Homo sapiens: one gene and its partners. The protein of the gene in region 2 interacts with the protein of the main gene of each other region in a pairwise test. Each region holds a gene or a part of one and is shown on either strand. Other genes may lie near its edges.

Region 1 (8,801 bases), on a different chromosome or scaffold from region 2:
CCCAACATTTTGGGAGGCCGAGACGAGTGGATCACCTGAGGTCAGGAGTTCTAGACCAGCCTGATCAACATGGTGAAACCCCGTTTCTACTAAAAATATAAAAATTAGCTGGGTATGGTGGTGGGCGCCTGTAGTCCCAGCTACTCGGGAGGCTGAAACAGGAGAATCGCTTGAACGTGAGAGGTGGATGTTACAGGGAGCCACGATTGCACCACTGCATTGCAGCCTGGGCAACAGAGCAAGGAAGGTCCCCAAATATTAAAGCACACAGAAAAGGGGTTTTGCTGTAGCTGTTCTGGAATTGGGTGAATTTGAGCAACTAGGTTATATATATATGTATTTTTTTGTTTTTGTTTTTGTTTTGAAACGGAGTTTTGCTCTTGTTGCCCAGCCTGGAGTGCAATGGCACGATCTCGGCTCACTGCAACCTCTGCCTCCCGGGTTCAAGCAATTCTCCTGCCTCAGCCTCCCAAGTAGCTGGGATTACAAGCGCGTGCCACCACGCCCAGCTAATTTTTTGTATTTTTAGTAGAGACGGGGTTTCACCATGTTGGCCAGGCTGGTCTCGAACTCCTGACCTCAGGTGATCCACCTGCCTCGGCCTCCCAAAGTGCTGGGATTACAGGCATGAGCCACTGTGCCCAGCCATATATATATATATATTTTTTGAGACGGAGTCTCGCTCTTTTGCCCAGGCTGGAGTGCAGTGGCGTGATCTTGGCTCACTGCAGCCTGCGCCTCCCTGGTTCAAGCGATTCTCCTGCCTTGGCCTCCAAGCAGCTGGGATTACAGGCGCCCGCCACCATGTCCTAATTTTTGTATTTTTAGAAGAGACGGGGTTTCACCATATGAGACAGGGTTTCACCACATTGGCCAAGGTGGTCTTGAACTCCTGACCTCAGTTGATCCGTCCGCCTCAGCCTCTCAAAGTGCTGGGATTACAGGCATGAGCCGCCACACCTGGGCCTAAGTTGTATTTTATGTGCACTAGGAGAGTTGGCCATTAAGAGAAGCCCCGTGCTAAGTCATGTTGTAGTCTCAGTAGTCACTCCTCAGTTGCTCAGATTTTTACATACTCCCTTTCTTTTGGTCAGTGGGTAGGGTTAGGGGTAGGCTAAGGATGGGCAATTCCAGGCCTTTCCCCTCTGTATCCTGGGAACCTGAGATGCGGAGGTGTGAAAAAATATGCCTGACAATGTCAGAGGAGAGGGATGGCATGGAATGGGAGGCAAGGTAGGGAGAGAGCATTCCTTCCTTGGGGGAAGAGAAAGAGCTGGGTTTATAGTTATAATGCATTTTCTTTGTAGGAAACTTTAGAAAATTTAAGATAGATGAAAGAAAGACCAAGCCAGCTGCAGTGGATCACGCCTGTGATCCCAGCACTTTGGGAGGCCAAAATGGGAAAATCAGTTGAGGCCAGGAGCTTGAAACCAGCCTGGTCAACATAGCAAGACCCCGTCTCTACAAAATAAAAATTAAAAAATTAGCTGGGCATGGTGGTGTGTGCCTGTAGTTCCAGCTACTAGAGAGGCTGAGGCAGGAGAATTGCTTAAGCCCAGGAGTTCGAGGCTGCAGTGAGCTATGATCACACTACTGCACACCATCTTGGGCGACAGAGTGAGACTCTGTCTCAAAAAAAAAAAAAAAAAAAAAAAAAAAAAAAAAGACCAAAATCCCTTGTAATTTCACTACCACAGATAACCACATGGAACCTTTCAGTGTAGTTTTATTTCTTTTCATAAATACACATGTACATTTTAACAAAAATACGGATACACTGTATACAAGGTTTGTAACCTCCCTTTTCCACTTACCAACTTGTCCTGAAGGGAGAGTTTGTTTTCTTTTCTTTCTTTCTTTTTTTAAATGGGATATCGCTCTGTTGCCTGGGCTGGTCTCGAACTCCTGGGCTCAAGCGATCCTCCCCTCTCAGCCTCCCAAGTAGCTGGGACTGCAGGCATGCACCACTGCACCCAGCATGAAGGGACAGTTTGAATTTGGACAGGGAGCCGATGGTGAGAGCCCAGGATGGCAGAGGGAGGCCTTACTGCTAACAAAGACTAGTGTAATCCAGTTTGGCCAGAGGTGGGAAGGGCACGTGGGAGGACCAGTGGAGGTCAGATCAGGGAGGGAAATCAAGGCCAAATGGTGCAGTGCCTTAAACGGCAGATCTTGGGGTTTGGACTTGATTTCTCATGATGTCGTCACTAGGAGTTACTGCAGCTTTTGGAGGGAAGCCAGGCTTGAGGAGGGTTGTGCCTGGGGATGAATGTCTGGCAGCAGTGTGTGAGGTCAGCTGGAGAGGGTGAGGCTGGAGGCAGGGAGGCCCGGCTGAGAGCTACTGAGGGCCAGGTTCAGATCTGCTGCCCAAGGGGGATCAGGTGGGATGGGATGAAGGGTCAGAGATGCCTCTGGGAAGAGGTTCTGGAGCCATTGCTGGATCCTTTGGAGCCACAGGCAGCCGTTCTTCCTGGGCAGGAAGGAGCGCTGTCCAGCTTCTGATTTCTAGGCCTGTCATCTGTTCAGTCTTAACCCAATTACAGTAGAAAGAATGAAATTAATTTATTTGCTATTTTGAGCTGGGCATGGTTGTCCATGCCTGTAATCCCAGCACATTGGGAGGCTGAAGCAGGTGGATCACCTGAGGTCAGGAGTTCAAGACCAGCCTGGCCAACATGGCGAAACTGCATCTCTACTAAAAATACAAAAAATTAGCCAGGCGTGGTGTTGTGTGCCTGTAATCCCAGCTACTCAGGAGGCTGAGGCAGGAGAATCACTTGAACCTGGGAGGCAGAGGCTGCAGTGAGCCAAGATTGTGCCACTGCATTCCAGCCTGGGCAACAGAGTGAGACTCTGCCTCAACGAAAAAATAAAATAATTTGCTATTTTGCATTCATTTCTTTGTCCAGCAAGTACTTCTTAAGATCTGTGATGTGCCAGGGGCTGTGTTGATGGGAGCAGAGCGGGCATCCATATTTTCATCCCTTTCCTCTCCCCAGGTACGGAGATACAAGGGCCTCATGGACTGTGCCAAGCAGGTGCTGCAAAAGGAAGGCGCCCTGGGCTTCTTCAAGGGCCTGTCCCCCAGCTTGCTGAAGGCTGCCCTCTCCACAGGCTTCATGTTCTTCTCGTATGAATTCTTCTGTAATGTCTTCCACTGCATGAACAGGACAGCCAGCCAGCGCTGAGTGCAGGAAGGACCCCAGGTCTTCCCTGGAGGCAGCCTCCTGAAGGAAGGAAGATTCAGTCTCCACTGAGAGGTGCCGTCTGGCCCTTCCCTGCAGGCCAGCTGCCCCAAGCGGGGTAGCAGCCTTGAACCCACCCAGCTGGGACACCACCAGAAGGTCCAGGGCTCTCCCCATGAGAGAATCAGAGGGAATGCAGGACGTGGTCTATGGTGAGCCAACGACACAGTGAGAAGGAGCAGGAAGTTGCTGTTTCTCCTCTGACCAGCCCACACTCCAAAGGAAACAGACGCCATCCTACACCTATCAGCCCTGCCTGCCAGGAGAACAGAACACACTCCTGGTCTGGATGGGGCTGCTGCTTGAGTGCAGAGGGCTGCGGTAGGCCCTTTGCAGGAGTCAGGTCCCTACACTTGGCCTGTTTTTCCAACCTATTTAATAGACATTAAAGCTAAACACACATTCCTTATCTTACTCCATCTCCCCTGGCACATCTGCCTACTCACAAAGTATGAGGGAAAGGACTCCTGCCTTCCTCAAATCCCATGTTCTCCATAGCGGCAGCCCTTGGCAGCTCTGCTTCTAGTGCTGGGGGAGACTCCAGGCTGAGCCAGTCACTTTCTGGGCCCCGTGCCCAGACCTTCGTGTCTGCAGACACACCACCACCCAGGCTGTCCTCTCCCAGGACCGGGCTGGTCATGGCCGTGGGGCTCCATGGAAAGCAGATCCCAGCGCCCGTGCAGGAAGTGGATGGGCCATGCTGTGGGCAGGCGTGGGTGAAGGTGCAGCCTCTCCCCAGTCTACCTCACTGACTCCTCTTTCACCCAGAGCTGGGTCAGCCTTGCTGGGTGAGGAGCTATCAGCAGGACAGGTGGCATCAGCGCCCACTGCCTGCTCCTCAGTGCAGAGCATGCTGCGGGTGCATCCTCCCCTGTAGCCCCAGAAGGGCCGTGGCTCTGAAGCAGCCCACTGATGGGGATGGCAGAAGGAAGGGGCGGGCACGTAGCCTGGTGAGGGCACAGCTGGTGCCTGGGGTGTTACCAGAGCAGAGGGACACCCACAGGCGGAGAGGCAGAGGAGAAACCAGTTCCAGGCTGAGGGGAGGTCTCCAGAACATGACCTCCACCCTTCCCTCCATCTGCCCGGCCTGTAGGGTTGCTCCGACCTGGGAAGCCCTCCATTCTGCCTCCCTCTCCAGCCTTGGAAAGAGGCACCCACTGGGAGCCGGCGCTGGCCCTGGCCCTGGCGTGTGGGTCCTGGGCTCCTCCTCGCACCATCCTTCCCTGCCTCTGGTCTGGGATTTTGGGGTCTGTCTGGGCCCTGAATGCTGGGGCTTCCTGGCTCTGGGCTGCTGGTTCCCAAGGTCCAGGCTGCGGCGGGGGCCACGAGGATGCAGCTGCCTGAATGCATTTTTTATGAAATTCCGTTAAAGTTTCTTCTCTTCATCTTTCCTGCCCATTGGTTTCTTTTGCTGCAGCTGAGCGTTCTCTTCCTCCTCCGTTTTCGGTGACCACTTTGGCGGTTCTTTTAAAAGGAGGCGAGAACGCGGGCAGCGCCGGCAGCGCTCCTCCCGGTCGCGCGGCAGGAGCGGCGGCAGTTCTTCCCCCACTTCTAGGTGCCCTCCTGTCACCCAGGGCAGACGCCGGGCGGTGGGGTCCGCGCCACTTCAGGGGCATTCGCAACAACCGACGGCCGCGAGTTGCCAATGGGGCCCCTTTCTCGGGGCTGCCCCTATGACCTGAAACTCGCTTCGCCCATGTCCTCCTTGGAGCGGGAGAGGGTTGTGGCTGGCCCCGGCCCTGCAGCCCCTGCCTTCTCTACCTGGGTTGGGGGAGCGGGGAAAGTGGTGCGACCAGGGCTGATGCTGTTCCTCCTGCCACCAGGTCCCCACCACGCGCTCTGCAGGCTCTTCCCACGCCGCGCAGCCCAGCGGTGTCTCCCGGCCCAGTGCACCTGAGCTCCGGGGAGGGCTGGGTGCGGGGCCACGCGCAAGATCGAGGTGCCGGCGGGTCCGGCGTGGGCCCGGACACGGCCCAGGCGCACCGGGTGAAGGGGTGACGAGCCAAGCGAGTTCCGCTTGCGGCTGGGTGGCAGCGTCGCAGGGTCCCACGCAGGCGGCGCGGCTTCCGGGGCGGCCTGGAGGCCAGGGCAGTGCCCCGGGGGCCCGGCAGGTGGCGCGGGCGAGCCGACCCTTCCCCGGCGCCGCGCGAGGAGATGAGCTCACGGCGGGCCCCGCAGCGCCGGACGCTGGTTGCGCGCTCCCAGGCGCCGAGCGGCCCCGGGCACGCGCGCGCGCCACCGGCCCGGCAGGTGGGTCCCGGCTCCCACGCCGCCTCTCCCGCCCGCGGGACCCTGGGCCGTGGGCTCCGCAGCCCGCCCTGTGCCTCCGGGAGGGGCGTTCCGGGCGCGGGGGGAACGGCCGAGGGCTGGAGACCCTAAAGGCGCCTCCTACGGCCAGAGGGGAGCCTCCGGCGGGAGCCACCTCTCCGGGGCGCATCATCCTGCCCCCCAGTAAGAGGAAGGCTCCAGAATGGAGCTCAGGAATTAGGAGTCTCGAGTGCGTAGGGCCGGGTTACTGCCACTCGGGAGCCGATCCGACCAGCCTGTCCCAGGGAGAAGCTGGCACGGGTCTGGGGAGTTCAGGCTGCTCCCGGCAGGGGCGGCGGACAGGGCGCCTGCGTCCCCACCCACGCAGGCCGGCCCCATCCGGGGGATGCAGCGGCGGGTGTTGAGACCGAAGGACTCGGCGAAAGCCAGAAAGAGAGGGTTGGGGAGAGGGGCTCGGAGACCTGCTGGGGACAGAGTCGCACCGCTTGGAGTTCCCAGCCTGGCCCTCACCCGGCATCTTCCTGGGCCAGCAACGTCAGGCCGGTTTATTTAAGCAACTGTAACGTCCGCCCGCACACACCCTGCCCCAGTCTACTCCTGCCTCCTGCTGGGACTGGAGGGTGGGCGCTTTCCTGCTTCAGCTTCTCGCTCTTGTGTAATCCCACAAGCGAGGGATTTCTAAACTGAGCAGCAGGTGCCTGGCTGATGCCCAGTCCCCACCAGAAGCCAAGCCTGGTGGGCCTTCAGCCAACCACCGCACGCCACGGACCGCCCAGGAGTCCCTGTCCCGAGCGCGCCGTCAGCCCCGTCCAGGGCCTGCAGGACGGAACCCGCCCTGCGCTCCACACCTGAGGCCGCTCCCTTCGCCTCTTCTCCTCAGGTGCTGTCCTTATTCCCAGCCCAGTCAAGAGCTACCGGGGCTGGCTAGTCATGGGGGAGCCCAGTAGAGAGGAGTATAAAATCCAGTCCTTTGATGCAGAGACCCAGCAGCTGCTGAAGACAGCACTCAAAGGTGAGCACGGGACCCCTCCTGAGCTGGGGTCAGGAGCTACAGAGAAGGGCCCCTGTGGGCAGCACCAGAGGCTGAGCCTGGTGAATGCCTCCACCCCTCCCCTCATTCTCTGACGATAGGAGTCGGCAACGTAATTCTTGAACTGGAAGACAAGCTACATTGAGGCCATTATTTTGGAGTATGAATCACAGTCACCTCTCAGACTGTAAAGACTGTTTTAAAAGTTTAACCATAGGGCTAGGCGCAGTGGCTCATGTCTGTAGTTCCAGCACTTTGGAAAGCCAAGGTGGGCAGATTGCTTGAGTCCAGGAGTTCAAGACCAGTCCCGGAAACATGGTGTAAACCCCATCTCTACAAAAAAAAAAAAAAAAAGAAAGAAAAGAAAAATTAGCCGGGCATAGTGGCAGGCACCTGTGGTCCCAGCTACTTAAGATGCTGAGGTGGGAGGATTGATTGAGCCTGGGAGGGTGAGGGTGCCATGAGCCATGATCCTGCCACTGCACTCCAGCCTGGCTACAGAGCGAGACCCTGTCTCAAAAAAAAAAAAAAAAAAAAAAAAAAAAAAGTTTAACCATAAAAAAAAGAACACGGCTCCTGCCCTTGAAGCGCTTACATTTGAATTGCTGGTTTCTGTGCTGCCATAGCCCCGTCTCTTGAATGCACAGTTGCCTGCTTTGAGACAGAAGATGGAGAATATTCCGTTTGCCAGAGGAGCTATAGTAATTGCTCTCGCCTGATGCCTTCCCGCTGTAACACGCAGTACAGAGGTTTGTCTTCAACTAATAATTAGCAACACCCATCATGTGTCAAGCCGAGCCTGTTGGGAGGCCCTATGTGGCCCTCTCTTGTTGGGGGTTTGCATGTGTGTAGTATAAGAACACTTTTTCTTGTGAAATTGCTGTTGGAGGCATGTCCTGGTCAGTATTCCTTCCTCAACCTAGTGCCAGGAAAAGATGTGTTTCCTGAGAAACTACATTCTTACTTTGATTGGTCCCTACTAGCCACATAACCCTCCCCATTTTCTCTGACTGGGCAACCAGAAGACAAGACAGCTAAAGCTGTTTGTATGGTTACTGTCCTCTGTACGGTTTCTTTTCCCTTTTTTTTTTTTGAGACAGTTTCGCTCTTCTTGCCCAAGCTGGAGTGCAATGGCACGATCTTGGCTCACTGCAACCTCCGCCTCCCAGGTTCAAGCAATTTTCCTGCCTCAGCCTCCCAAGTAGCTGGGGTTACAGGGGCCCGCCACCGTGCCCAGCTTATTTTTTGTATTTTTGTAGAGACGGGGTTTCATCATGTTGGCCAGGCTGGTCTTGACCTCCTGATCCTGACCTCAGGTGATCCACCCGCCTCAGCCTCTCAAAGTGCTGGGATTACAGGCATGAGCCACCACACCAGGCCCTCTGTATGATTTCTTTTATTTTTTTCTTTTTTTTTTTTTTTTTGAGACGGAGTCTTGCTTTGTCGCCCAGGCTGGAGTGCAATAGCATGATCTCGGCTCACTGCAACCTCCGCCTCCCAGGTCCAAGCGATTCTCCTGCCCTAGCCTCCCAAGTAGCTTGGATGACATGAGATGACGCACGAGCCACCACACCTGGCTAATTTTTGTATTTTTGGTAGAGATGGGGTTTCACCATGTTAGCCAGGCTGGTCTCAAACTCCTGACCCCAGGTGATCCAACCACCTCGGTCTCCCAAAGCGTTGGGATTACAGGCATGAGCCACTGCGCCCGGCCATGATTTCTTATAAGTACCATGCGCTAACCAATTGCACCACTGGAGCCACTGTCCTCTGTATGATTTCTGATCTCTTTCACTTCAAGCATATGAGTGCTCTACTGTAAATATCTCAAATTCTTAGAAGCGGGTGGACACAAATGTGATAAAGCAGCAGCTCTAGACTCCCCTCCTATCTCTACCCCTAGATCCGGGTGCTGTGGACTTGGAGAAAGTGGCCAATGTGATTGTGGACCATTCTCTGCAGGACTGTGTGTTCAGCAAGGAAGCAGGACGCATGTGCTACGCCATCATTCAGGTTGGGGGTTGGGAGAGGAAAGGAAGCTGCTTTGAGGAAGGTGCTTCAGGAGTGGGCAGAAGGCCTGGCCTGCAGGACAGAGATGCACAGGGTCTAGCTCAAAGAGAGAGAGAGGCATAGGATGGGTGGGGTTACAGGGGCACCGCCCCCCACCCTTCACCTTCCTCTCCCTGGCTCACAGGCAGAGAGTAAACAAGCAGGCCAGAGTGTCTTCCGACGTGGACTCCTCAACCGGCTGCAGCAGG
Region 2 (7,054 bases):
TTCACTAAAATTGATTTTTTAAAAACAAGCTGCGGTGAACTATGATTGTGCCATTATACTCCTGCCTGGGTGACAGAATGAGATCCTGTCTCAAAAAAAAAAAAAAAAATCAGCAAGGGTATAGAAAAATCGCATCAACACTGTTAACAAATTTGATCTGACATTTACAGAACACTGTACCCAATAACTGCAGAATATAAATAGTTTTCAAGTGTACTACCAAGCCTTTCAAAGATAGACCATGTGGCCAGGAGCAGTGGCTCAGGCCTGTAATCCTGGCACTTTGGTAGGCTGAGGCAGGCAGATGTCCTGAGCTCAGGAGTTCAAGACAAGCTTGGGCAACATGGCGAACGCTGTCACTACCAAATACAAAAATTACCAGGTGTGGTGGCACACACCTGTAATCTCAGCTGCTTGTGGGGCTAAGGCAGAATTGCTTGAACCTGGGAGGTCGAGGCTGCAGTGAGACAAGATTGCACCACTGCACTCCAGCCTGGGTGACGAGTGAAACCTTGACTCATTAAAAACAAAACAAACAAACAAACAAAAAATAAAATTAAAATACAAAAACCATGTGCTGGGCCATAAAATAAGTCTTAATTCATTGCAGAAGACTTAAATCTTAAGGAATATGTTCTCCGACCACATTGGTCTTTAAAAACACACCAATAACAATAAACACCTAGAAAATCCTAAAGTATTTGGAATTTAAATAACATCCCTTTAAATAGCCCATAGGTCAAAAGAAAAAAAAAAAACCACAAGTGAAACTAGAAAATATCAAACTGAATGACAATGAAAACACATCAAATTAATATTTGTGGGAAGCAGCTAAAGCCATACTTGGAGGGAAATTTATAGCTAAATGACCGTACTGGGTGGGGGAAAGAGAGGCCTAAAATTAATGACCCAGAAGTCTGCCTTAAAAAAAAGCTAGAAAAACTAAGAACAAAGTAGGCCTGAAGTAAATAGAAGAAAGGAAATACTGAAGTTAAGAGTAAAAATCAGTGGAATAATGATAGAGAAAACAAGGCTAAAAACCGGTTCTTTGAAAAGATTAATAAAATTGAAAAGCACAACTAATACCAGACTTTCTCTTTTTTATTCGTTTGAGTTTTTTGTGCTGACTGTGCACGGACCAGTTCACATGGGTGCTGGGTTCACACAGGTTACAGGGGGAGGCAGAAGGAGAGAACACACCACAGCCTCCAGAGCGCCTCCATTGCAGATAAGCACGCATGCGCTCCTCCGTGCCGCACCCCTGTTCACTGCTGGATCCTGCGGATGCTCTGCACCTGGAAGGTCGGGGCATGAGAGCCCCACTCCCGGAAATGTTTGTAGTCACCGGAATGGTGATCGCATTCCAGCACATACTGAAATCCTCGGTAGCCCGGAAACTGGGAGCAAACCCAGCTGGAAAAGAGAAAAGGCAGACAGTTACTCTACAGAGACACCAGCATGGTGATCAACACAGGGGCAAAGGGATCTATGCACACGCACACAATTCCAGCCATCCTGGCCTTTCTTCAGTGCTCACAATGTGCCATGCTCTCTCCCCTACCACAGGGCCTTTGATCATGCCATTCCCTTTGCCAGAAGCACCATCCCAGCCTTTCTTTTCCTAGACAAGTTGTATTTGTCCTTCATGGCTCATCTTAATTATGAGGGCAATCTGACTCGTTCCCCAAATCAGGCCACAGTCCCTTATTATACCTTTGTAGCACTCATGTAATTCGATAGTTTTCAAATTATTTGTAAAATATCAGCCTCCCCTGCCAGCAGGCAAGCTCCTGAGTGTAGGAACGTGTATGTTTTGTTCATCGTTATCACCACCTGCATAAATATATAAAAGTCTAGCAAGGAAGAAGGGGTTCCTAAATATTTGCTGAATAAGTGAACAAGTGAAGGAATGGGAAGTCTTGTTCTTTCCCCTTTCTCCCTCCTTCCTTATCCAGAGGCACTTCCAAGAAAAAAAGCTATCATTTCAATTCATTGATTTTTTTTTTTTTTTTTTTTTTGAGACAGAGTCTCACTCTGTTGCCCAGACTGGAGTGCCGTGGCATGACCTCGGCTCACTGCAACCTCTGCCTCCTGGGTTCAAGTAATTCTGCCTCATCCGAGTGGCTGGGACTAGAGGCATAGCCACGACACCCAGCTAATTTTTTGTATTTTTAGTAGAGACGGGCTTTCACCATGTTGGCCAGGCTGGTCTCGAACTCCTGACCTCAGGTGATCCGCCCACCTCAGCCTCCCAAAGGGCTGGGATTACAGGCGTGAGCCACCGTGTCTGGCCCAACTCATTGATTTCTACTCTGTTCAGGACAAGGATTGGTGTCTGGTTTTCCAAGCCTCCATTTCCCTTTCTGTAAAAGAGGAAGTGAACTCAAGAATCACAAGGGGTCCCTCTTACTCTAAAACAACATGATTCTTTGGTGGTTCCTGAGAAAACTAAAGCCAAAAAAAGAAAAAAAAAAAAGATGAAAAACCCTACCTCCCATCTTTGCCCCCTGCCTACCAGGAGCCAAGGGGCACCTCAGAAAGTGGTTCTGATGTCCTCCCTAAATAAGAATCTCACACCTTAGCCTTCACCTGCCACCTCCTGGGTGGAAAGGAAAGGGCCAGTCAGTGCTGAGTTTGAAGCTGGATTGTTACCTACCTGCTGATGGACTTTGAGCAGGTTGCTGGAGCCACACCTGTGTTTTATGGCTAGGGGCATTCATTCTCCCCTCTTCTAGCCAAAGAGCCTGTGGCCTCTCACTCTCAGCCAAGGTGAGAAAATGAGGCTGAATCTAGCAATGGACCACATGACCAAACCTAGCCAATCAGAACACCCCATTCCTATGGGCATGATGATTGGTTCAGAGTTGAGCACAGGACCCAGCTGGACCAATGAGCACCTTTCTTGGAACCTTTAATAGAATCACTGAGCCTGGACACTGTCTTTCCCTAGGGCTGGATGTAACGATGAAGCCGCCACCTTTGCCTTCACACAGGAAGAGCTTGTCTAAGAATATAGTCACACAGAGGCAGGCAGGGCAACAGGTTGGGGGTTGTGGGGGGAGAGAGATACCTGCTGTAGTACCTGGATCCAGCTATGCTTGAAGCTAATTACAGGGGCTGATAAATATCTTCTGGGCTCAAACCAGTTTGATCTGGGTTTCAGTCCCTCAAATTCTGCCTGATACCTCCCTGTGCCTCAGTGTTCTCCTCTGGAATGTGGGCATCAGAGCACAAAAGTCCCCAGCACACAGTTTTCACAGGAGGTACACCTACCCCTCCCAGTAGCCCCTCCCCTGCCAGGTAGAGCCTTGAATACACTTACGCCCCAGAGTGGACGTGGAAGGACCCTACTTCATTGCCTTCCCATCCCATGGCCTGGAGGGAAGGATAGTCATCGCTCAGCTCTCCTTTCTTGCCCAGGAAGTTCTCTTGCTCGAAGATTGTCAGCCTCGAGTCACGGTGGTTCTACAGGAACAGGGAACACAGTCAGACCAGCAGGCTCCCAGTTGGAAACCCAGGAGCCTCTCCTGGCCTCCACACTCCCTGCCCTTGTCTCCCAAATCAGCCTTCCTTGCAAACCTTTTGGAAGGGCAATAAGGCAACAGGTACCAGAAACCTTGCCATTTGCCCTTCCAGAAATTTCCACAAAGAAAATAATCATGGAATAAATAGGCTGCAAGAATGTTCATCATAACAGTTTTTTCAAAAACAAACAAACAAAAAAAGGAGTCAACTTTTATGTCCAAAATTGGGGATCCAGTGGTAAGCTGAGGCATTACACTGTGGTTAAGAAAAAGGGTGTAGAGGCCCGGCGCGGTGGCTCACGCCTATAATCCCAGCATTTTGGGAGGCCGAGGAGGGTGGATCACCTGAGGTCAGGAGTTCAAGACCAGCCCGACGAACATGGTGAAACCCTGTCTCTACTAAATACAAAAAATTAGCCAAGCGTGGTGGCACATGCCTGTAATCTCAGCTACTTGGGAGACTGAGGCAGGAGAATCGCTTGAACCTGGGAGGCAGAGGTTGCAGTGAGCCGAGATTGTGGCATTGCACTCCAGCCTGGACAACAAAAGCAAAAACTCCATCAAAAGAAAGAAAGAAAGAAAGAGAGAGAGAGAAGGAAGGAAGGAAGGAGAGAGAGAGAAAGAGAAAGAAAGAAAGAGAAAAAGAAAGAAAAAGAAAGACAGAGAATGAAAGAAGGAAAGAAAGAAAGAAAAGGAAAGAAAGAGAAAGAAAGAAAGAAAGAAAGAAAGAAAGAAAGAAAAGGAAAGAAAGAGAAAGAAAGAAAGAAAGAAAAAGAAAGAAGGAAAGAAAGAAAGAAAGAAAAAGAAAGAAAGAAAGAAAGAAAGAAAGAAAGAAAGAAAGAAAGAAAGAAAGAAAGAAAGAAAGAAAGGAGGGAGGGAGGGAGGGAGGGAGGGGAAAGGAAAAGAAAAGAAAAGAAAAAAGAAGGAAAGAAAGGAGGTGTAGAGATATCATCTCAAATCCTTCCTGCTAGGAGGCAGCTGCCACTTACCAACTGACTGAGGTTAGACAGGATTTCTGAGCCTCTGTTCCTGTATCTATAAAATGAAACTAACCCTACCCATTTTTCAGGGTTCTTTTGAGGACTAAATGAAATCAGGAGTTGCAAACTGCTGGGAATGAGGGATTGTTTCTGTTGCAGCCCGCCACGGGTCCCTATATTAGCACAATATCTAGACTGTTTGCAGAATAAATGAACAAATGGACTTATTCACAAAACAGAATACTAGGGAGCTATGAAAAACGATGGAAGTGAGATTTAATCACCTGGACTGATGATTGCGACACATTTGCTCAGTGAGAAAAGCTAGTTTCCAAGCCTTAGATTCATTATGATTCCAATTTTATGACAAAATTATGTGTGCAATATAGATAAGATATATAGATTATACAGATATAGATGTAGATGTTGATTTGGATGTGTATATACATAGAGACACAAATGTATAGGTTGAACATCCCTAACCTAAAAATCCGAAATCCAAAATGCTCCAAAATCTAAAACTTTTTGAGTGACGACATGACACTCAAAGAATGCTCACTGCAGTATTTCAGATTTTGGATTTTTGGATTCAGGCTGCTCAACTGTAAGTATTACAAATATTGCAAAATCTGGGGAAAATATTCAAAATCCAAAACACTTCTGGTCCCAAGCATTTCAGGTAAGGGATACTCAACCCTGACCATAGCAGGATTTTCCTTCAGAATTTTGGATGGTAAATATGGTGACTTATGTCATTTTAAATCAATAAGAATTGAAAAATAAAACACACTTTGTTGTTTTTGTGTTTGTTTGTTTGTTTTTGTTTTTTTGTTTTGTTTTGTTTTGAGACAGAGTCTTGCTCTGGCGCCCAGGCTGGAATGCAGTGGTGCGATCTTGGCTCACTGCAACCTCTGTCTCCCGGGTTCAAGTGATTCTCCTGCCTCAGCCTCCTGAGTAGCTGGGACTACAGGCATGTGCCACCACACTCAACTAATTTTTTTGTATTTTCAGTAGAGACAGGGTTTCACCATGTTGGCCAAGCTGATCTTGAACTCCTGGCCTCAAGTGATCTACCCGCCTTGGCCTCCCAAAGTGCTGGGATTACAGGTGTGAGCCACCATGCCCAGCCTAAAATACACCTTTCTGAGCCTCAATGTTTTCATTGGTGAGATGGGAATAATAATGCCCACCTCCACCCACACTCCAAAAACAGCAGTAAAATGTAAGATCAGGAGCACTGATGCTGAATTAGGAGCAAGAAATGAAACCTTTCCTCTCCACTTGGCCCTACCATCCCTGGTACCCAGATTCTCTCAGGGTCCCTGAATCACAAAAAAAAAAGGGCACAAAACTGGCAGGGGCTCCTATCACAACCAGGGTTGCTGTGAGCAGAGAGTTTAAGGCAGGCTCTGGTCAGATGTTATACGTTCTTCTTCCCAAGAACATTGGTACTATTGCCCCATTTCAAGATGAAGAAACCGAGGCTTGGAGAGGAAAGAGACTGAACAGCCCTTGTCACACAGCTTGAAGTGGCGACATGAGAATTTCAACTCTGGAACCTTTGATTCCGAAGTGCCCACATGAGGGGCTTGGGCCTCCCCGGGATGCAGCAGTGGTAGAACTTACAGCACAGGCCGCAGGCCGGAAGGAGGTGAGCCTCTCGGCGGGGTAGGCCGTGTTGCCGCCCCAGGCATCCCAGCTTGGATATTCGCCTCGTTCCAGAATGTACTGCTGCCCTTGGAAGCCAGCATGCTCAAAGCCCACCCACCTGCAGACAGAGGGTAGAGTGTGCAGGAGGTAAGCGTCCCCCTCACCCTGCATTCTAGACCAGCAATTGGGTCTAGAACGGTCACAGTCACAACCATTCAGGGGTGACTGTGCCCCCAGGAAACACTTGACGATGGCTGGAGACATTTTTGGTTGTCACGACTAGGGGAGGGACTGCGAAGGCCATCTATCGGGTAGAGGCCAGGGATACCACTAAACATCCCATAATGCACAGGCCAGCCTTCCCTGCAAAGGATGATCCAGCCCGAAACATCAGTAGCGCCAGAGTTGAGGAACCCAGCTCTAGACCTCACTTGCTGTGTGTCCCATAGGTAGGGAAACTGCTTCACACAGGTGCCCTGACAACCTTGCTCCTCCGTCCGTGTCCACAGAGGCCAAGGAGGCAAAGCTGATCACAGACTGATCTCACCTTGGTGGAATTCCCCGTGATCCTGCCAGGGTGTGGGAGACGGGCAGTCTTGCAAGGAGCGACCGCATGGCCATCTCTCATTTTCCTCCCTCTCTTGTGGGAGGCTGCCACGAGGCAGCCCCTCATCTGCCTCTCTGGCCACTCTGAGATGTGGGGCTTTCCACCTCGCCTCCCCACAGGCGACAGCAGCAAGCTATCGTTGAAGCATGGAAGCAGCTCTTCAGCCACGGGGTTCCTACCATTCCTAATGCCTGTCATTCAGCCCCCTTTGTTTTGGTGTCGTCCAGTAGGACAAGGGACACAGGAGGCTGCACCTTGCCTTTACTGTCTGTATAAGTAATAAACTGTCTGAA
Region 3 (7,163 bases), on a different chromosome or scaffold from region 2:
CTTTCCTTCCTGTGTCCTTTTTCTTCTCTGGTCCTGAGTCAGCTTTGACTCAGAAATGTTATAGCTGGAAAGAGGCTTACAGCCAATGAGGTCAAGCTCTACATGGAATAGATGGGGAAACTGAAGTCCAGAGAGGTTGCTTGGGTCCCTTGAGGTCACACAGCCTGTTTGCCCCCAGAACCTGGGCCTCCTGACTCCCTGTAGGTGCCTCCTTTCCCCTGGCCCAATCTGCTCTCCTGCCCCGGCTACATTTGGACACATCATTGCCAGCTCAGCCTAGTGGCTTAATGGAGTATTTCACAATGATACGTGACTGCCACAGGAAGGCTTCAAGCCTCCAAGTCTTTCCCTTTCCAAGAGACAGACAAACCAAACTTGAAAGAAGGAATATCAGACATGATAGATGTTTTGGGGCAGATGAAAAGGACAAGCCTCCCTCGTATTTCCCAACAGAGCTGGTCTCTGGTGGCCTTGCTTCTTCTCCGGGTCTGGAAGGGGCCCGTCTCCCTGGCCCCTGCTTTGGAAGGCCTCTTCTCTCCACCCTCCTGGGTCCACTGTGGCCCTTGGCTTTCCAAAGATGCTGGCTCCTGGGGCAGGCGGGAGGCTGTAAGGCTGCAGCAGAAGACCCAGGCCCAGGCCCAGAGTGAGGTCTAGGAGGAGGAAGCAGGGCCCCCAGGCTGCCCTGCTCCAGGAAAGAGGAAAATGCTCACAGAGCTACAACATTTAATAACGTCATTTTTAGGGGGCGGTGATGAGACTCCCCAGCACACAGGGAAGGAGGCCTGCTCTGGGGCTCAGGTCTGCTGAGAGTTAGCGGTCTCCTTCTGGGGGCTCAAGGGCTTGTTGAGCTTAGAGTCTGAGCTGGGCAGCAGGGGCTCCAGCTCTGAGGGCTGCTTGAGGTCCATGGAGTGGGTGAGGGCACTCTGTGGTGTGCAAAGCGGGGTGCGTGAGTACCCCCCATTCCCAGGGGGTGACCTGCTCAAGGGCATATTGCCTGACAAACCAGGCCTCAGAGTATCCAGAATCCAGTGGGCCATGACCTGGCAAAGATTTCTAAACCCATTTTGCCACAGCAGGTGACACCTAATTTCTCCAAGGGTCCCCAGGGCTCAGGTGAGTGTGCAAAGGTTGCCTTTGTTCCTTGCCTGTTCCCTCATCCTTTCCAGGCCTTTCCCAGGAGCCGCTGCTGAGCTTCTGGCCACGGGCAAAGCACAGCTGGCTCAAGAGCAGGAGAAGTCAGGGTCTTTGCTTTGCGGGGCTGGGCGGTCCCGGGGTTGAACTTGAGGGGCAGTTGTGAGCAGGCCTGTTTGTTCTCGGGAAGTTGGCAAAGTGGAGCCTACATCGTGGCCATCTGAGAAGGGTGTGCTAATTTGAGAATCTTAGGCTCTATGGATTCAGGGGGGTAGGGCCACAAGCTACTCTGCCCATGAGCGCAGCCAGTCCTAAAGCACAGTGTCAGGGCATCCTGGAGATGCCTGCATGGACCCCTCATCCACAGTCATCTCCTTGAGTTTCACAGCACCCCATGGGGGAAAGGGTAGTTTTGGCAGGGGTTTTCTGTTCCCCTTAGACAGGTGGGGGAATTAAGACCGAGCCTTCGGTTGGTAATGGAGCAGGAATGGGAGCCTAGGACTCCTGACCCCCAGCCCTGGAGTTGGCTCCACAATGGCTTTTCTCAGGGCCCAGTGACTTTGGGGGTGCGGTGGCTTCCTGCTCCACCACCTGAACCCCTGGGAGCTACTCCAGGGGGGTCACTCACAGGCTGTTCTATGATGATGGAGTTCGAGGGGTGCCTGAAACCTTTTTCTTGCTCCTGCAGCCGTGTGGCCAGATCCTGCTTCTCTCGTCCCCAGCGTCGAGCTGAGTCCTCTAACTGCAGACACAGAGAGGGACAATTGGAGGACCATGGGCAGCAGGGCTAATCCCTGATGGCCAGGACAACCAGGGCCTGAGCCTGCTGTCCAGGCAGAAAGCAAAGCTCTGGGCCATGTGGGCTTGACACCTTCCCGAGACCTCAGGGGTGGCGGGGTGAGGGTGAGGGGGCCAAACAGTCAGGCAGCCTGACCAAGACACAGATGGACATTTCAACAACATACTGAGCTCTGATCCTGAGTCCACACTGATCCCTGATTCTGGTCATAGACAGAGCCTGACCCTGGTCACACAATGAACCCTGACCCTGGATATACACTGAACCCTAACCCTGGTCATACACAGAACCCTAACCCTGGTCATACACAGAACCCTAACCTCGTTGTACACGGAACCCTGACCCTGGTTGCACACTGAACGCTGACTCTGGTCACACACTGAATCCTAACCCTGGCTGCACACTGAACCCTGACCCTGGTTGTATACTGAACCCTAACCCTGGTCGCACACTGAACCCTGACCCTGGTTGTACACTGAACCCTGACCCTGGTCACACACTGAACCCTAACCCTGGTCACACACTGAACCCTGACCCTGGATGTACACTGAACCCTGACCCTGGTCACACACTGAACCCTAACCCTGGTTGTACACTGAGCCCTGACCCTGATTGTACACTGAACCCTGACCCTGGTCACACACTGAACCCTAACCCTGGTTGTACACTGAACCCTGACCCTGGTTGCACATTGAACCCTAACCCTGGTAACACACTGAACTCTAACCCTGGTTGTACACTGAACCCTGACCCTGGTTACACACTGAACCCTAACCCTGGTTGTACACTGAGCCCTGACCCTGGTTGCACACTGAACCCCGACCCTGGCCACACACTAAGCCTTGATCCTGGTCATAGATTGAGCCTAGACTCTGCTCACACACTGAGCCCTGGTTATAGGCTGTGTGGTGAGCCTGATCCAGCCTCATCAACTCCTGCATCTCACCCACCTGGCTTTCCAGGGACAGGATCCGGCTCTGAGCGTGTTCCAGCTTGGCCAGGAGGTTGAACTTGTCTGAAGTACCAGAGAGGAGATCCTGTGGGCAAAGCACAAACTCACATTTGGCCCCAGCTGGAGGCTGTGGCAGTGTGAGCTTGGGAAACCATAAGGTATTGAGGAAGAAACCAGTCAGGCCTGAGTTCAGACTGAGCTCCCGAGGCAGAGCGTCAGACCTGGGCCGAACCCTCTTCTGGAAGTTCAGAACAGGGTCTGGCATGTGCTTTTTTCACAGCTGTTTCCCACACAGATTTTGAGAATACGAAGTTTTGACACAACATTTTTTTTAATGTAAAATGCATTAGGGAGCCCCCTATAATTAACGCACTGGGAGTCTTTGAGTGAAGTGAAGAACCTGTGAGGCAGTTGACCTCATCCCTCACACTTTACCTGGATGTCCATGAGTCAGGTGTGCTTTCAACAGAACTCACCTCCGGCGAGTCCTGGGATGGAGAGAAAACTCTCCTGTGCCCCTGCCCTGCCCAATATTCTGTGATTCCAAATGTTCTGCTTTGGGGTTTATGTAAAGCAAGGGGCCCCTGAAGCATCTTCAGAGGTGGAGCAGGGCCTGGGCATTTCTGGGCCCTGGGCCACCCACCTGTGCGGGCAGGGTCTCTGTGCACTCTGAGTGGCCTGGGCCATGCGTCTCTTGTAGCCTCTCTGTCAAGTCTCCTCCTGCTCCCAACTCCCCGGGGTCCACCTGGGATGGAAAAGGGCTCTCCAAGGCTGCACCAAGACCAGGGAATGCTCCAGAAGGGAGTTTTGAGAGGCCTGTGTAGGGTCCAGGTGGAGGCCAGCCAGGTGAAAAAGGGGTCAGGGTTCAGGGACCAAGGGTCAACAAGGGGCTTGCTTTCTCCTGGGATGCTAGATGAGGTTAAAGGTGAAGTGTTCGGGGACACACATTCCGCAGGAGAAAAAGACCAAGGCCTGAGAGCTGATTCCAGGAGCCCCCAGGCAGACTGGAGACCCTGGGAAGCTTAGCTCCTGGTCTTGATCTTCAACTTGGGTTGTACCATGGGTGATTTCTGGGCACCCAGTGACCGGCATAGGCAGGCCCAGGTCAAGGGCCTCTTACCGGCAGGGCCTGTTGCTGCAGAATGATGGGGGCCTGCTGGTGGCGGTTCTTATCCAGCTCCGTCCGCAGCTTCGCGTTTTCTGCCAGCAGCACCGAGTAAAGTTCAACCGGCAGGTTCTCTCCCATAGAACCCAAGGGAAGGCCAGAGGCTGAGAGCATAGGGAAGCCTAGAGACACGGCCACAGATGTTGGTGAGATGGGCTCTCCTGCTTCCCATGTCCCTGTCCTGATCTGCTCCAGCATTTTGCTTCAATCTGCCACCCCTCCCCTCTACTCCCAAGCCTTCAATGGCTCCCTACCACCAGTGGGATCAGGTGCACACAGGCTGTCCTTCTAGGCTCTTTAGAACCTGACCTCAACGTTCTCTCTAACTCCTCATTTGTCTTCAGTGTATTTCAGCTCCTCACCTCTCTCTCTTCCTCCCTTCTCTGATCCTGGAATTCTTCTCACTCCCTGGGCCTTTGATCTGGCTGTTTCCCCTCCCTAGGTTGCCTTCTCAGTCTCATCCAGACTCCTGGATGACCTCAGGCTTCCTGAAAGGCCAGCCCAGCTTTCATTGCATTCTAAAGGCTCCTAGAAACACCCTCCTGCCCCTGAGACCCTCAGCGGTGAAGGCTAAGCACAGGGCTGGGCACACAGGGGCCCTGGGTGAGGTTGCACAGGCAGGCTCAGGGAAATCCCTTGCTTTGGGCTGGCCTGATATGGTGTTACCTGGTCCTTTCTGCTTATCAGAGGCTGATTGGCAGTTTTAGGTGGCTTTTGGTTAATATCGATGGGGAAGAAAACCTCCAAATCATTTATTTATTTATTTATTTTGAGGCGGAGTCTCCCTCTGTCACCCAGGCCGGAGTACAGTGGCACAATCTTGGCTCACAGCAACCTCTGCCTCCTGGGCTCAAGTGATTCTCCTGCCTCAGCCTCCCAAGTAGCTGGGATTATAGGTGCCCGCCACCATGCCCAGCTAATTTTTGTATTTTTAGTAGAGATGGGGTTTCACCATGTTGGCCAGGCTGGTCTTGAACTCCTGACCTCAAGTGATCTGCCCTCCTCGGCCTCCCAAAGTGCTGGGATTACAGGCATGAACCATTGCGCCTGGCCCCAGATCATTGATTTAATCAAAGTATTTTTGTTTGTTTGCTTTGCAGAGGCAGAATCTTTGGCGGTATGGGGAAATAATTCGACGGATCCTGGGGCTAGGAGCTGGGAAGTGTTGCCCCAGGTGGCCCTTCTTCAGGGGAAGGCCCTCTCTGCTGTGCTAGTCTGCAGGGCCCTCCTCTGGAGGTCCACCCTCTTTCTAGCCTGGCTCACACTGCATCCCAATTGTGTTCTGAGGGGCTTCCAGGGAAGGAGGGAGCTCAGGGGATCTCTGGATGGGGCGCCTGAATGAGGAGGGGAGCAGGGCAATCCTGGGTCTCCCAGGCCCACAGACATAACTGAGTGCAGGGGACCTCTTCGCAGGTTCTCCTGAAGCTGAGAGGCTCCAGGAAGGCAGGGCCTCCAGGGGTGGAGCAGAAGCTGGGGAGCTGATCACATCAGGGTGTGGACCCACCCGTGTAGGGCTTTCCCTGCTGCCTGTTCAGAGGAGGGGGCTTGCTCCTGTCCTGCAGCCTGTCCTCCAGCACCCGCTCCATCTTCTCGATCACCTGGAGAGCAGAGCAGAGGCTGGGCTGGCCCAGGGGCTCCCTACTCTGCCATCATCAGTTGGCCTCGGGGGCAGCCCCTCTGCCACCTGCCTTCTCTTGGTGCCGCACAGTCTCCTCCAGCGCCTTCATCTTCTGCAGCTTGCCCTGGTACTGCTTCAGCAGAGCGGCCTGTGGCTGCTGGGCCTGATACAGAAGGAGCAGCTCCTTCTCTCGATCATTCTTCTGTGAGATGGGGGAGGAGAGAAGGGGAGAGAATGGGTGCCTGGGAGTCCACCTTGGCCCTGAGGGTCCACCTCGGCCCCTCTGCTGAATCCTCCACCAGGCTGGTCCCCCTTTCTTCCGTGCTTCCATTCCCTCTGTGCCTGTTCTCCCTTCTCCTCCCAGACTCTTCTCACCCCGATGCTCCCCCACCATAGCTCCCTCCCCTCTGCCCCCACAAGCCCCAGCTCACTCGAATCAGCTCATTCTGCAAATGCTGCACCCTGTCCCTCAGTTTCTTCATATCCAGCTCACTCAGCAGCAGTTTCTGCTTCATGGACACTGTTAGGTGGGTTGGGGAGCTGGCTCAGGGAGGAAGCCTCTCCCAGCTCAAATCAGCATGGTCAGTAGCAGGAAGGCAGATATCCCTTGGCCCGAGGGCTTGGGACGGGACTGGATTCTCTGTTTCCCATCCCTGAGAGGACCCAGCTGGGCAGGGACTGTGTGAGTGTCTGTGGGCGAGGGGCTCCTATTTGCCAGAGTCCAGCAGCATGCACATCTGGGAGAAGCTCCCAGCCACCCTATTGCACAACCTGGAGCCTGGGCCCAGGCAGAAGCCCGGGTGCCCTTGGTGGCCTGCACATCCTCACCCGTGTTCTGGGCCTCACTGGCTTTGCCCTGCCCCTCTTCCTCCTCCTGCTGGGCCAGGCGGCTCCTCAGTATGCGGTTCTCTCCTTCCAGGATGCTGGCCTGTCTCCGCAGAGACAGGATGTCCTCTGCCATCTTCTGCATGGCCCGCCGGTAGTTGTTCATCTCCTGTGGATCCCAGAGCCCAGAGCTGAGCCCACTGCCCCATAGCAACCCTGGTCCCACATCCACATCTACACTTGAAAGTCAGTGGGTCCCCCACAAGGCCAGTGAGCACCAGGAGCCCCAAGCCATGGCCCTAAGTCTTAGCAGCTCCCTGGAAGGGTGGTTATGACTTGATCCTCACCCATCCTGGCCATGTGAGGGCAGCCACACTAATGTTCTCTCCCCGGGGCCACATCACGTCCTGTGATACCAACTCAGGGGGAAACCCCAGGTGTGGACACAGGGGAGGAGGCCTATGGGCAATGGAGACTTGAGAAGATCCAGGGCCAGGTTTGCAGGGTCTGGCTCGATCATAGCTATTTCTTCACCTTTTCCCTCCTCCTTCCCCATCTTCTAACTCCTCTCATTCCTCACGTCACTGAGAACCCAGGGAAGAACCTCTCAGAAATCCCACTGGATGCCACTTGGAAGGTGACTGGGCATCAGCCCTCCAAACAGCTCAGTAGT
Region 4 (8,318 bases), on a different chromosome or scaffold from region 2:
TGGTCTCTAGCATGCCAGGGATGCCCACTGTGGGTCCCCGTTGAACACAGTTACTCTACACTTTGATTAAGCACTCTTAAGACTCAGCCACACTGATAGTACATGTTTGATTAAGACACACATTCCAAAGGATACAGAGACATAGATCATAGTGCTCAGTGTGTGATCATCAACATCTGTGAATCTCTTCTAAAATTATGAGTTTGTCACCACATACATCTTCAAATCTTCCTTTTTTTTTTTTGAAACAGTCTTGCTCCGTCACCCAGGCTGGAGTGCAGTGGCGTGATCTTGGCTCACTGCAACCTCCTGAGTAGCTGGAATTACAGGCGCGCACCACCATGCCCAGCTAATTTTTGTATTTTTAGTAGAGAAGGGGTTTTGCTGTGTTGACCAGGCTGGTTTTGAACTCCTGGCCTTAAGTGAATCACCTGCCTCAGCCTCCCAAAATGCTGGGATTACAAGTGTGAACCACCGTGCCCAGCCCAAATCTTTAAAATCTCAGATTCCTCTGAGCTCAGAGCAATTTTAGGAAGGTGAATTTACTGCAATTTCCACTTGCATTCTGCTAAATCCATGCATCCAGTTTGAATCCATAAAGTTGGACTCCATTAAATAAATCATCCAGCAGGGTGCAGTGGCTCCCGCCTGTAATCCCAGCACTTTGGGATGCCGAGGCAGGTGGATCACAAGGTCAGGAGATCGAGACCATCCTGCCCAACATGGTGAAATCCTGTCTCCACTAAAAATACAAAAATTAGCCAGGTGTGGTGGTGTGCGCCTGTATTCCCAGCTACTCAGGAGGCTGAGGCAGAAGAATTGCTTGAGCCCAGGAGGCGGAGGTTGCACTGAGCCAAGATAGTGCCACTGCACTCCAGCCTGGGTGACAGAGGGAGACTCCATTTCAAAAAAAAAAAAAAAAAATTATCAAAATTTAAAATGTTTGCTCTCAAGAGACAGCATTAACAAATTGGAAAGACAAGACAAAGACTAGAAAGAATGTTCGAAAAATGTAAATCTGAAGAGGACTTGCAGGAAGACTATTTTTAAAAACTCTTACAACTAATAAGACCAAAAAATAAAGAAATGAACACAAATTTGAAATAAAATATATTGATGGACAATAAGCATACGAAAAGCAAAATTCAACATCACTGGACATCAGAGAAATGTAAAATAAAACCACAGTGAAATACCACTTACACACCCACCAGAATGGCTAACATTGTAAATTACTGACAATACCAGAAGTTGGCAAGGATTTCAGGCAAATTGAATCTCACATATTGCTGGTAAGAACATAAAATAACACACTCACTTTATAAAACAGTTTGACACTTTCTTATACTGTTAAACATACCCCTACCATATGACAGCAATTTCACTCCTAAGCGTTTATCTAAAAGAAAACATATCCCAGCAAAGACTTAGAAGTGAATGTCCGTAACAGATTTATTCATAAACAATCCAAGTATCTATTAAGATGTAAACAAACAAATCAGGGTATATACATACAATGGAATACTACTCAGCAATAAAAAGGAATGTGTTTCTCATACACCTAATAACAAGGATGCATCTCAAGCAACATGCTGAGTGAAGGAAGTCAGACCCGAAAGAGTATTTACTCTATGATTTCATTCATATGAACTCCCACTGCAAAAAGGCTGCAGGAGAACAAGGTTGTAAACAAGGAGACCAATTAGGAGGATGTTGCAATAATACAGTTGGAAAATGGTGGTGGCTTAGACCAGAGTGGTTGCAAAAGAGGTGATGAGAAGTGGTTCCATTCTGGATATATCATGAAGGTGAAGCCAACAGAATTTCCTGAAGGATAGAATGCAGGATATCTCAGAAAAAGAGAAATCAAGGATGACTCCATGGTCCTGAATCTGAGCAAATAGAAAGATGAAACTGCTTTAACTGAGATGGTGAAGGTGGGTGGAGTAGGTTGGGGGATGATAACAGCAGTTGTGTTCAGTTTGAAACATCCATTAGATGTCCAAATGAAGATAGCAAGTTGGCAGCTGGATATATAGGAACAGTTCCAGGCTGGAGATATAAATTTGAGAGTTTTCACCCCATTTTTCTGGAAAAGTGGCTGGGAACAGGTAGAAAGAGTTTAAGAGAAACAGGAAAAACCATGTGCACAGATCTTCTTACTGTACAAAAAGTAAAGATCCATTTAAAAAAAATCTGGAGGTCATTAATGACTTGGGGGAAAACACTAGAATTTTGATAGTAAAAATATTTGATACAATTACCAAAACTCTGTATACTCAAGTAAGGTTTAGGGAGGGTTGTACACCTCCCCTCTGATCTTGTCCAATACTGTGTGGCTTGCTACCAAACTGGCAATGTCTAGGTAACCCACACTGGATACCCCAGAGATAAAGAGAGCAGCTTCCACCTGATAACCTCCCTCTCCTGCAGTCGCTACCACCCTCCCACCTTGAGTCAGCAGGAAAGGAAAGGAGCTTTTCCTCTCCTCCTGAGCTCTGCCTCCTGCTCAAGGACAGAGTCAAAGTTTTAACCCCTTCAGTTTGTAAGTTTTCTCATTCATGAAATTGTATTTGGCCATTTGCTTCTTAGAAGACAGCTGCCTTGGAAGCAAGCTATTAGTATGACTTTAGAGTTGGAGCCTTCAGAGGTAACTGCAATTTGTGTGGTATGATTTGATAAAAACAGAAAAAAAGATTTTTCTCTCCAGATTCCTGAAATTCCACTATGAAAGGTGAAAGTGAAATGCCCAACTTTGAATGAGCAGTATTGGAGATTTCACTAAGTCAATAAGTGAAGAAAAGAGAAGCTATAGATGAAAAAAGAAACCCATAAAAAGGGAGACTTTTTATTATATATTGACAAATTATAGTTGTATATATTAATAGGGTACAAGGTGTTATGATTTTTTAATACAATGTGTAATAATTAAACCAAGCTAATTAATATATCCATCACCTCAAATATTTGACATTTTTTGTGATGAGAACATTTGAAATTTACTCTCTTAGTGATAATGAAATATACAGTACTCAATTATCAGCTTTATTCACGACACCGTGCAATTGAACTTTAAAAAAATCAAACTTTTCCTCTCTTTTTTTTTTAGATGGAGTCTCACTCTGTCACTCAGAGGGATGATCTCAGCTCACTGCAACCTCTGCCTTCCGGGGTTCAAGCGATCATCCTGCCTCAGCCTCCCGAGTAGCTGGGATTACAGGCACGTGTCTAATTTTTGTATTTTTAGTAGAGATGGGGTTTCTCCATGTTGGCCAGGCTGGTCTTGAACTCCTGACCTCAGGTGATCTGCCCACCTTGGCTGCCCAAAGTGCTGGGATTACAGGCATGAGCCACTGCACCCAACCCTTATTCATCCTATCTAATTGAGGCTTACACTCTTTGACTGTTATCTCTCCATTCCCTGCAACCCTAGCCTCTGGTAACCACCATTCTACTCTCTGCTTCTATGAGTTCAATTGTTTTAAGTTACTTTCAGATACTTGAGAACATGTGGTATTTGTGTTTCTACATTTGGCTTATTTCACTGTGCATAATGTTTTCCACTTCCATCCATGGTGTCACAAATGACAGAATTTCTTTTTTAAGGCTAAATAGTATTCCACACATACACACAGACACATAAAATGGAATACTATTCTCTTTTAAATTTTGTATGCCTAATAATTCATGGTTAAAGGACAAGATAATAACTATTTTTGAGTATCCCGCTGTGGAGACACGATCTCCTTTGATCCTTGCAGCAATGTGTAAGGTAAGTGGCATCATCTTCCTTCTATTAATGGTAGAACTGAAGATCAAAGAGAGTGTCTAACTTGCTTAGGGCTACATAGCCAAGTGGTGAAGCTAAACTCAGTCTAGGCTTACTTGATAGTACACTAACATTAAATGTCTAGGAGTAAATATCTAAAACAAACTGTAAGTCTTCTCTATTTACCATACAAATTATTCAAGTGAACTGCCATTTTTGCCTGGCTTGAAAGATACTTTTCAGAAGAATGGGCTCATATACACATGCACGCGCGCACACACACACACACAATGGAATACTATTTAGCCTTAAAAACGCATATATATCTAAAATATATGTGTGTACATATTTTATATATATATGTGTTTATATATATAATATATATTATATTTGTATACACACACACATATATGCCACATTTTCTTTATCCATTTATCCCTTGATGGACACTTAGGTTGATTCCATATCTTGGCAATTGTGAATAGTGCTGCAATAAACATGAAAGTACAGACGTCTCTTCAACACACTGATTTCAAATCTTCCCAGTAAATACCCAGAAATGAGATTGCTGGATCATATGATAATTCTACTTTCAGTTTTTTGAGAAACCTCCATACAATTTTCCATCATGTTTGTACTAATTTACATTCCACCAACAGCATACAAGCATTCCCTTTTCTCCATTCTTGCCAACACTTGTTATCATAAAGGGAGGTTTGAGAGACCATAAAACAAACCCCACCTCACAATTTTGTTAGTGCAAGTTCTATTTGGCCTATTCCCAACACTAAGCACACAGTAGGTGGCAAATATTTGTTGAATGGATGAATTCTCATTTTTCTCCATTTGTGGAAGCAGACACCTCCTCAAAAAAAAAAAAAAATCCGAAAGAAAAGGTAAAGGAAACAGTTCTATGAATGGGGGTTAATTTACTCTCCTAGCATTCACTTATTGGGAAAAAAAGTAACAGCAGTTTCTAGAACCCTCTGGTCTCTGAGGGAGATGCTGTGTTCCCCTCCTCAGAGAAGAAGAAAACGCACTAGAGAGTGGGAGCATCCCCAAGGCTGAAGCGCATCCAGGACATCACATGTCAACGTGTCCTCTCTGGCGTGGGGTCCCCGCGAGTCTGGGAAACGAGGAGCTGGCAAGGGAGGGCAAGCGGGGGCGGCAAAGAGGGCCCCTGGAGCAGGGGGCGCGGACCTCGCTGCGCTGCGCGCTCTACCGCCGGGCTCGCAACGCTGGGCTCAGCGCTCGCGCCTCCCTCAGCTCTCTCCTCCGCCCCCCTTCGCCCTCCCCCTTTCCCTCCCTTTCTCCTCCTCCTCCTGCCGCCGCGGCCGCTGCCGGACTTCGCCAGATCAGACCCACGGGGCTGCCCTCCCCTGCGCACTCCCCTCGCTGCCCGGGCCCGGAGCGCAGCGCGGCCGCACAGGTAGGAGCCCCCAACGGGGGGTCGCCCCGAGCGAGCCCAGTACTCACTGGGCCGCGCGCGGGAGAGTGAGGTGGGGTGAGCTGAGGGGTGTTGAGTACCCGAGAACTGCCCTGGACTGTGCAGGGTGTCTCGGGCAGAGAGGGAGGTGGAGGTGTGCAGCCTCGGAATGCGATCTGTCAGCAAGTGCGAGTACTCGGGTGACATCTGTTGGGATGGGCATGTGTGTGCGCGCCGACAACCAGCCGGCAGGGCTTTGCCCATAAACGTGGTTTTGAAAGTTTAGGGGACCAGTGTGCGAGATTTAAGCCGCACCTGGATTCCATAGGAGCTGGTTAGAAGCTGGGACGCTGAGCAGCTCCAGGGGACCGCCGCGTTAGCTTGCTGTTAAGAAAGGGGACCTCATCTCCCTGCCGGGCCAGGCCGCCCGCCCGAAACTGGTACCTTGGGCTGCGGTGCGATCCCTGGTTCCGGTCCTAGGCAGCCTGAAACCGAAGGTAGCGTGTCGGGGACCCAGACTGATAAGACAAAAGAGAATCAGTCGCTTTGGGCTGCCCCTCCACACAACCTGGGACTTTTAAACAAAGCTGTGCGCAGAGAAAGGCGTGGAAATGCCACTTTGAGAGTTTGTGCTGGGGGATGTGAGAAGCTCTGAGACATGTGAGAAGGTCTAGTATTCTACTAGAACTGGAAGATTGCTCTCCGAGTTTTGTTTTGTTATTTTGTTTAAAAAATAAAAAGCTTGAGGCCAAGGCAATTCATATTGGCTCACAGGTATTTTTGCTGTGCTGTGCAAGGAACTCTGCTAGCTCAAGGTGAGTATACTGGGAAAGCCTTAACGTTCTAGAGAACAGAGTTTTGCAGCCCCACCTCCATCCCCCGGGGTGTGGGACTGGGGGGCAGGAAATGCACCGTCCCCTTTGAAATGGATTACTGTTTTTTCCTTTCGACCCCCTCTTTCTGCAGCCTGCTTTGTAGGTGCAGTATAAAATGCACGCTGAATGTCTTTTGTATGTAAACAGCGTAGCAGGATGGAGTAACGTGAAATGCAATTCTACAGCAGTTTTTACGTCTTTGCTGCCTCGTTCGTTGGCTACCGAGAAGGTTCAGGAGGGGGAGGGGAGATGAGAAAGCAGATTGGAAGTTGAGTATGGTGGAGCCTCAGCCTCTCCCACCCTCCTTTCCTCGCTTGTGCTCACTGCTAAAGTTTTGTTACTTTCCCCGCAGCAGATACTAAACATTAGTTTGTCCTGTATTTTCTTTGAGATTCACAATGTTGAAAGCCCTTTTCCTAACTATGCTGACTCTGGCGCTGGTCAAGTCACAGGACACCGAAGAAACCATCACGTACACGGTAAGGGGTGATGGAATTTGAAATAAGTACGGTTCAGCGGGATTCTGTGACAAAAAAAGACTTTACACACCCCTGCCAGTGTATTTGGGCTATACTCTGCTGAGGGTGATAAATTAAACAACACTTCATTCATGCTTCATATCTAAGATTCGTTGTAAATTGCCCCCTTGATCCTTTCAAAAGTTCATTGGGCTCACCACCTAAGATAGGAACCAACATGTAATCATTTGTGCAGGGCTAAAAATGGGATCCGTTCAAAAACTAAAACCAAAGAAAGTTACATGTTTCCAAAACATTCAACAAATTAATGGGTGTAAGGAACTGGAAAACCTGGACTCCTACCACATGCAGATAAAACCAATACGTGCAGAATAAGACTCAAGTCAAGTAAGAACGTTAAACACCATAAAGACACATGGCCTTCTTTGTGTACATGACATGCATTCTCAAGTAAGTGGCCTTTATTGAATTTATAAAGGCTATATATTCATTCTTTTTGTATAACTTGATAATTCTAATAAATAAAGGCAGACAACAGTTTATGTGTTACCAGGATGCATATTGGCTAAAGTGGTTTTAAAACGTAATGTGTGCAACTCCGTTTTGCATTTTCTAATTAGCGTCTCTGATATTTCCAAGTAATATTTGATTAGTTAGTTGCATAGGTGTAACCAATGTTTAATAAAATATTAAAAAGATCACCTGACCCCTCCCACTGCTACAAATAGTTGTGGTGAGAACAGAGAAGGACAGTACTGACTTCACTTCTGGTGAGTTTGTTTGCACCTCTGTTCTGTGTTTTCTTGTCTTTAATCAGTGTTAGGCAAATGACATTTGTCCTGGATTGGAATATGAAAAGCACATTTTTCTACTGCTCCCAGTTTAAAATTAAGTAATCCTACTCGAAAGAATGTGAAAAATTTTTGAAAAGAAAACTCTTAAAAATGAACTAATGTCAATTACTGATAATAAACATTATCTCACTTTTTGGTACCACATTATCCCTAGAATGTTAGTATTCATCTGGCAAATGTTCCTTTCTGTTGTTCAGATCCACTATAAATAAAATAGCTTAATACAAATATTTTGTTAACTTCATGTTAAATGCAGTTGCTTCCTCTGCTGAAGATAAATTAAGCAAGAAAAATGAAGGCATGTGCTGTTTATCTTAAAATGAAAATGTTTTGTTATTCAGACTAAACTTACTGCCTTCTCAGGGAGCTAAAATTAAATTCACTACCCACTTTTATAATCATCTCATAAAAGATTTTACTTCTTTTCCAGTTGCTTATCTTCTATGCCCTTCCCTTTGCTAATCACCTAAATCTTCCTCATTTTTACCAGAGAAGGTTCCCTGTGGCTTAAACATGATAGTTTTAAGACCACTAACTAGGGTTCATTATTATTGTAACAAATTTTCCAGATATGTTACCCTTTTGTGCTAAGATTGGGCCTATTCTCCTTTAAATTTTGTATGCCTAATAATTCATGGTTAAAGGACAAGATAATAACTATTTCTGAGTATCCCGCTGTGGAGACACGATCTCCTTTGATCCTTGCGGCAATGTGTAAGGTAAGTGGCATCATCTTCCTTCCACTAATGGTAGAACTGAAGATCAGAGAGAGTGTCTAACTTGCTTAGGGCTACATAGCCAAGTGGTGAAGCTAAACTCAGTCTAGGCTTACTTAATAGTACACTGACATTAAATGTCTAGAAGTAAATACCTAAAACAAATTGCAAGTCTTCTCTATTTACCATACAAATTATT

Evidence for each region.
Region 1: the proteins of CRYBA4 (region 2) and MIF4GD interact in binary tests that used the Homo sapiens proteins (3 or more experiments, as listed by UniProt).
Region 3: the proteins of CRYBA4 (region 2) and CCDC33 interact in binary tests that used the Homo sapiens proteins (3 or more experiments, as listed by UniProt).
Region 4: the proteins of CRYBA4 (region 2) and EFEMP1 interact in binary tests that used the Homo sapiens proteins (3 or more experiments, as listed by UniProt).

What each region holds. Positions count from the first base shown.
Region 1 is NC_000017.11:75,267,838-75,276,638, reverse strand, and holds the start of MIF4GD (MIF4G domain-containing protein), read left to right. Parts: upstream 1-5,407; 5' UTR 5,408-5,495; exon of another isoform or gene 5,496-5,742; intron 5,743-5,916; exon of another isoform or gene 5,917-6,072; intron 6,073-6,393; 5' UTR 6,394-6,443; coding exon 6,444-6,525; intron 6,526-7,169; coding exon of another isoform or gene 7,170-7,292; intron 7,293-8,446; coding exon 8,447-8,556; intron 8,557-8,737; coding exon 8,738-8,801. Other genes in the region: SLC25A19 (mitochondrial thiamine pyrophosphate carrier), read left to right, coding at 3,000-3,188. UniProt on the Homo sapiens protein: Functions in replication-dependent translation of histone mRNAs which differ from other eukaryotic mRNAs in that they do not end with a poly-A tail but a stem-loop. May participate in circularizing those mRNAs specifically enhancing their translation.
Region 2 is NC_000022.11:26,624,699-26,631,752, reverse strand, and holds the end of CRYBA4 (beta-crystallin A4), read right to left. Parts: intron 6,273-7,054; coding exon 6,131-6,272; intron 3,466-6,130; coding exon 3,323-3,465; intron 1,414-3,322; coding exon 1,266-1,413; 3' UTR 1,084-1,265; downstream 1-1,083. UniProt on the Homo sapiens protein: Crystallins are the dominant structural components of the vertebrate eye lens.
Region 3 is NC_000015.10:74,329,685-74,336,847, reverse strand, and holds the end of CCDC33 (coiled-coil domain-containing protein 33), read right to left. Parts: intron 6,660-7,163; coding exon 6,494-6,659; intron 6,186-6,493; coding exon 6,097-6,185; intron 5,868-6,096; coding exon 5,736-5,867; intron 5,646-5,735; coding exon 5,552-5,645; intron 4,170-5,551; coding exon 4,003-4,169; intron 3,628-4,002; coding exon of another isoform or gene 3,526-3,627; intron 2,968-3,525; coding exon 2,881-2,967; intron 1,874-2,880; coding exon 1,760-1,873; coding exon of another isoform or gene 1,676-1,759; exon of another isoform or gene 1,352-1,675; coding exon of another isoform or gene 1,337-1,351; exon of another isoform or gene 924-1,336; coding exon 795-923; 3' UTR 707-794; downstream 1-706.
Region 4 is NC_000002.12:55,920,591-55,928,908, reverse strand, and holds the start of EFEMP1 (EGF-containing fibulin-like extracellular matrix protein 1 precursor), read left to right. Parts: upstream 1-5,126; 5' UTR 5,127-5,198; intron 5,199-5,969; 5' UTR 5,970-6,010; intron 6,011-6,461; 5' UTR 6,462-6,468; coding exon 6,469-6,549; intron 6,550-8,318. UniProt on the Homo sapiens protein: Binds EGFR, the EGF receptor, inducing EGFR autophosphorylation and the activation of downstream signaling pathways. May play a role in cell adhesion and migration. May function as a negative regulator of chondrocyte differentiation.